Regions from separate parts of the Homo sapiens genome. Here region 1 is linked to region 2. Evidence: fine-mapped expression QTL. A gene starts in region 2. The other region holds a variant in brackets. All regions are shown on one strand. Distances are between the middles of the regions.

Evidence for each region. PIP is the estimated chance that this variant, and not a neighbour inherited with it, causes the effect. A credible set is the group of variants that fine-mapping cannot tell apart.
Region 1: its variant is the best candidate, but not a certain one, in a credible set for the expression of OLFML2B in lung (TOPMed, PIP 0.81).

The regions. Positions count from the first base shown.
Region 1 is chr1:161,981,046-161,985,431 of GRCh38, forward strand. OLFML2B (olfactomedin like 2B) reads right to left here. Exons shown (of 8, transcript NM_015441.3): 7 at 3,759-3,935; 8 at 2,147-3,231. The coding sequence ends at 2,630. Among named protein-coding and RNA genes, the nearest start is that of OLFML2B, 41 kb to the right of the region's middle. The variant A/G (reference allele first, on the strand shown) is at 2,180.
Region 2 is chr1:162,022,001-162,026,386 of GRCh38, forward strand. OLFML2B (olfactomedin like 2B) reads right to left here and starts at 1,869. Exons shown (of 8, transcript NM_015441.3): 1 at 1,257-1,869. The coding sequence starts at 1,430. RefSeq lists silencers at 1,981-2,130, 2,199-2,493.

The sequences.
Region 1 (4,386 bases), 41 kb before region 2:
ACTTGAATCTTCATGAATCTACCCTTCTTGCAGACAGAATGTGGTCCTTTTTACAGACGGCAGACAGGCTCAGAGAGGTCTTATCCAAGGTTTCACAAATGCCAAGTTGGAGAGCTGGGACTAAGACCCAGCCCCTGGAGATGGTCTTCTCCATCAAACACCCATCTTCACGGTGGGGAAGGAAGCAGGCAGGAAGAAGGCCTGCGCACCATCACCCAGCTGTGCTCAACTGTGTTGGATGCCGAGCGACAGCAGAATGCACCTTGTTCCTGCCCAGGGTGCTGGGTTGGTTGCAGGTGCTTCCACCAGCCTCACTTGGGGTGCCCGTGGGGCCCCTTCAGGCCTCTAGCTCCCTACTGTCTGCTTGCCCACAGCCTTCAGGTCTGAGATTCGCTCAACCCCTCTGCCTTCCGTTTCTGCTCCATATCCCCTGATCAGATGGCTTTCTCGGACCTGTTCTTGTAAACTTCAACCCCCTCCCTTCCCATCTTTCCCTGCTTTATTTTATTGTCACCTGTCACATTACACGTAATGTATTTCTTTTTCTCTCTCCCTGTCTAGAATATAAGCTTCAGGAGGGCAGGGACTTTGTGTTATTTACTCCCATCCCCAGTCAGGGCTCCATAAATATTTACTGAATGAATAAATGTACACATAAATCAATGAATGTAAAAAGAATGAAAGGATAAATTGTTAGGAATTTTTTCTCTACTTTTGAAATATACTGTTGGGAAGTCTTTTAACAGGAAAAAAAATAAATATATTTCCCATCAGTATCAAGCAATTAAAATGCTCTAAGTTTGACGAGGTATTATAGAGCTGGAGAAGACTCAGCCAGCAAGTCTGAGGGCTGGGAAACACCCCCTCATTTTACAGGTGAGGGCAGAGGCCCAGAAGGGTGGGGCTGCGGGTCTCAGGTCTTGCCCTAGGCGGCAGCAGGTGGAGCATAGCCTGGTCATGATTCTGCTCTTTAGGCTTTGGAGAAACTCATTCTTTGTTTAAATCTTGGTGTTTAAGTCTTGGTGTTTCCAAAGTTTAACCCCACAAAAGAAAGCTGCTTGAAGAAGTCCTGGATGTTGTGCTCAGGGAAAACATTAACGACCACCCAGCTTCAGGCCTGCGGTTACCCCTGCCTCTGCTTCCTCCTTCCGGCATGTGGGAGGAACCTGAGAAGTGTCCTCACCTGGCCTGAGTGGGCAGTTTGGCTCTAAAACCAATTGATTCACCCAGACAAGCTGCAGCCGGCCTCCCTGGAGGGCTGTTCCTCATGGCCCCCCACCTTGTTCTCTACACAGCGGGGGTGCTCCCTGGTGTGACCCTCTAACTTGGGGTCAGGAAGTGAGGCCGCCTACAGAGGGGTCGGGAGGAGGCTGAGGGGAGCTGCAACAGGAGAGCTGTGCTGATCTCCCTGCGGCATCCCTGGGTCCTGCCCTCCTTCATAACCTCAGGAGATGCCTGTTCAGGCTTTTTCAGATGTTCTATCTCCTGTTTTGTGTAATGTGGAGGAAAAAAATCACACTTGTGGACAGCAGGCACTGCACAGGGCTCAGCCCTGCACCGGGAGGGGCTGCAGTTCTTCCCCATCCCTCAAGTGCTTCCCTCAAGGACCTTGTTTCAGAAAGGGGCCCCTTTCCTGGAAGGGAAGGTGGGAGGGAAAGCCTGGCCGAATGAGCTTGTTCAGGAAAAGGCAGACAGGGTTATGGGCAGAAGGAGAGAAGGGGAGAGAGATGGATTGATTGAGAACTTCTTAAGGAAGTGTGGGAACAAGGTCGCACTCACTCAGTTTTGTATTTTCAACAGTGCCTAAGACCAGACCTCGAGAAGCAGGGCTAATGAATGAACGGGTTCCCCAACCTTGGGTGAAGTGATCAGAGGAGTAGCAGAACAGAGCAAGGAAGCCAGTGTGACAGAAAAATGAAGAGATCAATGCCACAAAATTAAAGAGAACACGGGGGTCGCTCATTCCAAATCCCCCACCAGGAAGCCCCTATCAGGAGGGGAGGAGGAGCTCCTAGGAACTGAACTTGGACGCAGGCCACTTCAGCTAGAGAACATTTCTGAGGAACACCAGACCTCGTCTCCTTCCGGGAGCGGGATCCAACACCTGGCCAGACATATCGGTGCTGAACAAAAGTGCACTGGGGGATGATTTTAAATTTCTTCTTTATTAAAAAAAAAA[A/G]GCGTTTTTCTGGGTTTTTTAAAACTTCTCCAATACATTAAAACTTTTTTTCTCGCCACATAGCACTTCTTTCTTGCCTCTTTCATTTCTGCTCCTGGTGTTGCCTGCCTCCTGCAAGACCCAGATGAAGAAACCTTTTCAATGGTCGAGATCTGAGACTTGGAGCTGGAGGGGCTGAAGGCTTGAAGGAAGGTGGTTACTGGTCAAAAGGAGAAGTTCATTTGCACAAAAATATAAACTGGGGAGGATGAGACCAGCACATACACGTATGGATTGATCTACAATCCATATAAAAAAATAGACCCAAATTGTCATTTTACATTTGCAATATTATACAAAATAATATATATTTTTAAACAACACATACCCACCTACACACACGTGCGCGCACACACATACACACAAGGTGCTAGTGACCCCTCTGTGCTTCTGCTTGTGGGGACAAGGGTGTCAGTAGGCAAAGATGACATGGTAAGTGACCTGGTGGCCATTGTCCCAGGCATAGAGCAGGCGGTCCTTGGGGTTGTAGTCTATCTGGGTCGTATAGGAATACTCATTCTCGAACAGCAGCCTGGGGACGATCTGTGTGTTGGTGTGGGTGTCGAAAGCGTAGGAGATGTTGGCATTCCGCTGGTTGTAGCTATCCACGGCATACAGCACCCCACAGATGACGAAGCAGTTGCCGTAGAAATTCCTCCGGAGCCCCGTGCGCCATGTGGTCTCCTTCTGTGTGCTCAGGTCCGCGGCATTGAGCTTGCTCAGGACAATGACCTCCTGGCTGAAGCCCTCATCGTCCAGGGCCGGGTAGATGAGCCATAGGCCATTCTCGTCCACAGCAAAGTCCACGTCTGAGTGGCCCTGCCATCGCCAGGGGGTGGCCTCCTCGTAGGCCACGTCATGCAGCATGGCCCAGGCAGCCACGTAGCGCTGCTTCAGGTCGTACTTGATGATGTTGCGGGTGAAGGCGCGATTGTAGTAGAAGGCGCCATTGTATACCACGTGGCCTGTGCCGATCCAGCTGTACGGGAGCTTGTAGGAATTGCTCCAGCGACCTGCAGGTGGGGAGAAAACAGGAGGCTTCAGAGTGGCATGGCAGAGGGTGGGCAGCCCATGTGGTTAAGTGAGTGATGATCAACGAGGGGTCTGGAAACCCAGGTTTGTGTCTTGGCTCTGCCACTTTCTAGCATCCTGTAGCACATCACTCAACCTGTCCGTGCCTCAGTGTCCTTATCTGTCATAGGGAAGTGACAATTCCCATCTGCCTGTTTCAAGGATCCGGGGAGCTAATATACATGAATGTGGTTCATAAATTGTCAAGGGCTATGGGAAAGGGAGCCTGTCTTCTGGACTCGGAGGTTTTTCCATGTCCCAGGAGCTCAGGAGGAGGGGCAGAGCTGAGAGGCAGAGAATGTGAGGGAGTGGGGAAGGGGGACCGCTCTCCAAGGAAAGGTCCTTTAGCCATCAGAAGAAGGTGTCATCCTTCCTATCCGTCATTACCACCCAAAGAGGCCTGGCTGTGATAAAAACAGAGGACGTGGGGAAGGGAAGGAGCAGTCTGGGTTGGATCTTTATCATGTACCTTGTTTGAAGTTCTCCAGGTTCCGGAACTCTACCAGGGTGTTGCCGTAGTAATAGTTGGTTACGTAAATCCGCTCATCCTTGGCCAGGGGGTCCTTCATCCAGGCCCCTTCATTCCGCCCATATGTGTTCTGGGTGGTCGGCCCCGTGATTGTGGAGAGAGTGTCCTTGCACCTTCCTGGTGGAGAAGAGGTGGATGGAGGTTTTGGGCTGATCTAGTGATGCCTCACCCCTTAAACCTTTGCTGTTCATCCATTTAGAGTCTGGACTCCTCGGCAGGCTTTAACAGCCCTGTATAACCTGACCCCAAACATTTTTCCACACCATCTCCTGCTACTCCCCTGATCCACCCTACACTTGACCCTACACTTGAGCCTCCACCATGCCCATCTTTGGCAACTTTCACACCACTATGCTTTGCTCCTGTTCTGACTTCTCAGTCCTATCCTTCAAAGACCTAAGATCCAGAGTCCTTTTATGACATCATGCCCTCCTCTGGAGAACTATTCTATTCTATTCCATTCAGCTCTCAGGGTACCATGAATGCTGCTCTCTTACAGAGCATGTCATCCTGCATCTCCACAATGTTTGTGCTTCTCTCTCCTCCCTCCACGCCTGCCCCCAACCGG
Region 2 (4,386 bases):
ATTCTCTCTACAGGAAGGAGACAAGGCCCAGTCCTAGGGCTTGGTGGAGGTGAAGGTACAGGCAGCCCTGGAGGATCCTTTTTCAGACATCCCCCATTCTGAGGATTCTGGTGACACCCACCACACGTCATCATGCCGGCTCTGGAGAGCACAAAATAAACACTCCAGAGAGAACTACCCCTTACAGACATGAGATCTGGGCTGAAGACTGTCAGACGCCCTGGCTCTACCCATGTATCTCTTCTTTTTTTTTTTTTTTTTTTTTTTTGAGACGGAGTCTCACTCTGTCACTCAGGATGGAGTGCAGTGGCGCGATCTCCGCTTACTGCAACCTCCACCTCCCGGGTTCAAGCGATTCTCCTGCCTCAGCCTCCTGAGTAGCTGGGACTACAGGTGCCTGCCACCACGCCTGGCTAATTTTGGTATTTTTAGTAGAGATGGGGTTTCATCATATTGGCCAGGCTGCTCTTGAACTCCTGACCTCGTGATCTGCCCGCCTCGGCCTCCCAAAGTGCTGGGATTACAGGCGTGAGCCACCGCGCCCGGCCTACCCATGTATCTCTTATGGTCTTTATCTATAAATGGGTATTAGGGTGTTTTGAAGATTGAGTCAGAAAAAACAAGTTTAAGTACTTGGTAAACGGACACTTTACGAAGCCCATCACTATCATGGGTTACTCGGGCCCCCACTGACAGTCTGCCCTAGCTGCCTGCATCTGCATTCCCACTCTCCCCTCCCAGTACACTCCGTCATGTTCTCAGTCTCTCTGTTTGGGGGTCACCTCACATTCATCACACATGCTTCTGTTCTGACTTCACCCCATGCTCCCGCCTGGTGTCCCACCCTCTGCCATAAAGTATCTCCCGATGGGATATGCCATCTGCCTCCTGGTCAACATATCCGGCTGTTTTCACATTCCAATTCTGACAGACAGCCACATAGACAAGAGATACTTTTTACAACCCTGAAACCAAAAACAACTTTGTTTTCTTTCTTCTCAAGAAGTCGAGCGGCATCTTCCCTTCCTTCACCTCTCCTTTCTCCTGATTTGATGACCTTTAAGCACCCTATGATTTTGCGAGGAGAACCTATATCCTTCCATTAAGAAAATATTCCGATACATGAAAAATCAAAAGCCCTTTCCATTGGTAATGGAAGGAAAAACAGCTGCCCTCAAACACTTCAGCAAGGACCAGCTTCTGGCTCTCACCACCATCCAGGGCAAGAAGGGCGGTCGTGGCACTCTGCATCCTACCTGAGATAAAACGTTCTCCTGGTTGTCCGCCTCGTTTTGCAGAGTCTCGTCCTCCGCAGGCGCCACTGTCTGCGCATCTGGGGGCTCGCTTGTCCCTGTGAGGACAATGCTGGACACCCAGGCCGGAACCACAATCAGAGCGAAGTAGAGAACTAGCAGCCGAGGCTTGGCCATGAGGGGCGCGATAAGAGTGTCCTCAGCCCCTTCAGAGAATGGCTGGGGCGGGGGGTCTCGGCAAGGACTTCTGCGAGAGGGTGTCCTCGCTAGAGCCCGAAAGTGGCTGCTGAGAGCACCTTCTAAAGCTGGGTGCGGCTGAGCGGGACGGGAGGGTGCGCCCCAGAGACTCTGGGCATCTCCTTCCCGACGCGAGCAGCCCTCGACTGTGCAGCCCCAGTGGAGAGCCGGACGCAAGGAAGAGGGGATGACGGAGAAGGTGGAGGCGGGCACGGGCTAGCTGAGCGAGTCGCCCGCAGGAGGGCTCAGGTGGCTGGAAGGCGTTCGGACAGACGCCCGCGGTGCGCGCCGGGACGGGCGGCGGGGAGCCTCGGGACGCACGGGGACCGGACACGGGGAGGGAAGAGGCGGTGGCGGCGCGGGCTGCTGGGCGAGGGCTGCTGGGCTAGGGAGCCGCGGAGAGCTCGCGCGGAAGGAGGGCGGAGCCTCTATTGTGCCGGGGCGGCGGAGATGCAGCCAGTGACCGCGCGGAGGAGGAGGACCTGGAAGCGCACAGGGCTCGGGCGGAGGGGTACCCGGCGGACCCCGTCCCCGCTGGGACTCAGCTGCCGCGCGCCGGCTGAGGGTGACGTTGGAAGGGCTTTACTTTCTTCTCATCTGATCGCAAGTGAGTGAAGAGAAGTTACTCCGAGCGGCGTCCCTGAAGTTTTGGGGTTCGACCATTCTTGGCGAGAAGAGCGACTTTCCATCGCAGGCACCCAGCGCTCGCTCCAAGGCTGAGCTAGTTAGGGATCTGCGGCATCGTCCTTTAGCACACCTGGGGCAGGGGAGAAGGCGCGTTTGTTCCCAGGCGTTTCTTTTCCCTGACTTAACTCTGGGCGAGTTCTCGGGCAGCTTTGAACTTAGCGCCGTTGGTAGCTGCTTGCCTGCCACGGCTTTAGAACCTAGTAATACCTCCACCCAGAGGAAAATCATTGAATTCCTTCCTAGAGTGTGTCCTGAGTTGTGTAAACGTTGAAAGTTAGGGGAATGACTGTACATCTCCGACACTCTCCGCGAGTCCCCATGGGGAAAGCTACTGCCTGATAAATGATTACCAAAGGGAACAGCTCTTCCTGTCTTCCTGGTTTGGGACAAATCTCCGGGTCTCTGTTACCAGATTATCTCTAAGAGGGAGTCCACTTTCAATAGTGTGCAATTATGTTACTATGTCCCTCAATTACTGAGGACAACCTTTTATAAACCTACAGTGAAGATTACCAATATGTGAATTTAAGGAAGGGCACTGTGCCATCCTGGACAACTGTCACTCGGAATATTGAACAGAGCCAGGCCCCTTCAAAGGATATTATGCACCCTTGGGAAATTCAAACACCTTGCTTCTTATGCTGAGGAATAAGGGTTGTAATAAACTAAGGAAACTAGCGCATATAAGTAATAGTTGACATAAGTATAATAATAACCCTTATTAGTATATTTTAATCTTCAAAAAATTCAGTTTATGGACAAAAATTCAATGCTCTGGGTGTCTAGGTTTGTGGGGACATCATGCACACACCCTCCTCTGTGTAAGCTATCAAATCTTTTCTGAAACTATATGGGGGTAAACATTGATAAAATGTGGTGTATTTGATTGTTTGTTTGAGACAGAGTCTTGCTCTGCCACCCAGGCTGGAGTGCAGTGGCGGGATGATCTTGGCTCACTGCAACCTCCGCCTCCTGGGTTCAAGTGATTCTCGTGCCTCGACCTTCAGAGTACCTGGGATTACAGGCGCACGCCACCATGCCCGTTTAATTTTTTGTATTTTTACTAGAGTTGGGGTTTCGCCGTGTTGCCAGGCTGGTCTCGACCTCCTGGCCTCAAGCCATCCATCCGCCTTGCCCTCCCAAAGCACTGGGATTACAGGGGTGAGCCACTGTGCCCCACCGATAAAGTGTAGTTTTAAAATTCAGTTAAGGGGCGGAGTGTGGTGGCTCACCCCTGTAATCTCTACTGAAAATACAAAAATTAGCCTAGCCTGGTGGCATGCACCTGTAATCCCAGCTACTCTAGAGGCTGAGGCAGAAGAATCGCTTGAACCCTGGAGGCAGAGGTTACAGTGAGCCGAGATCCGCCACTGCACTATAGCCTGGGCTACAGAGCAATACTTGGTCTCAAAAAAAAAAAAAAAATCAATTACAGTAAGCATTGAATGTTGATTAAGTGCAAGACAACAAGCTAGGTTGCTAGACATTTAATGGGAAGATGAGATAGTCCACATCTTACAAAGTGGGCGTGGGAGTCAGGAGGTAAGCAGAACAAGCACTGAAATTGTGAGGCAGAGTAAGAACATATCTCATGGGGTTTAAATAAGGAATAGGTCACTTCTAGTGGAAAGGTCAGTGTGGATTTCATGAAAGCATGATACTGAAGATGACTGGGATGATGGGAGGTTTCAACAAAACAGTGGATAAGGCAACATGATGGGAGGGGGGGCCATGGCAGGGGAGAGAAAGAGAGCATTCTGGGCAAAGACATAATCCTGAATGTGCATATTCATATTTCAGATGGCTGCTCACTTCTCAGGGCAGCCTTCCTTGACTCCACCACCAGCATAATTTCTCTATTAAATGCTCCCATAATACCATGTACCTCTTTTTCATAGAAGCAGGAGAGATGGATATTTATATTCCTCCTTTGTGGGTTGTTTTGGGGGTGCCTGTCTTCCCCACCAGACTATAAATTCAAGAGGGCAAGGACCTTGTTAGTTTTGCTCACCATTACATCTTCAGAGTTTAACCAGTGCCTAGAACAAAGTGGACACTAAATAAATATTGGTTGAATGAATGGAAATTACGAATTGTCCAACTGGGTGTAGGCTCAGTTACCTTTATAAATACCATCTCTGTATCCATTAGGGTGCATTTGACTGCAAGTGATAGAAAATCCTTCTAGGAATGTCTCAGTCAAATATAC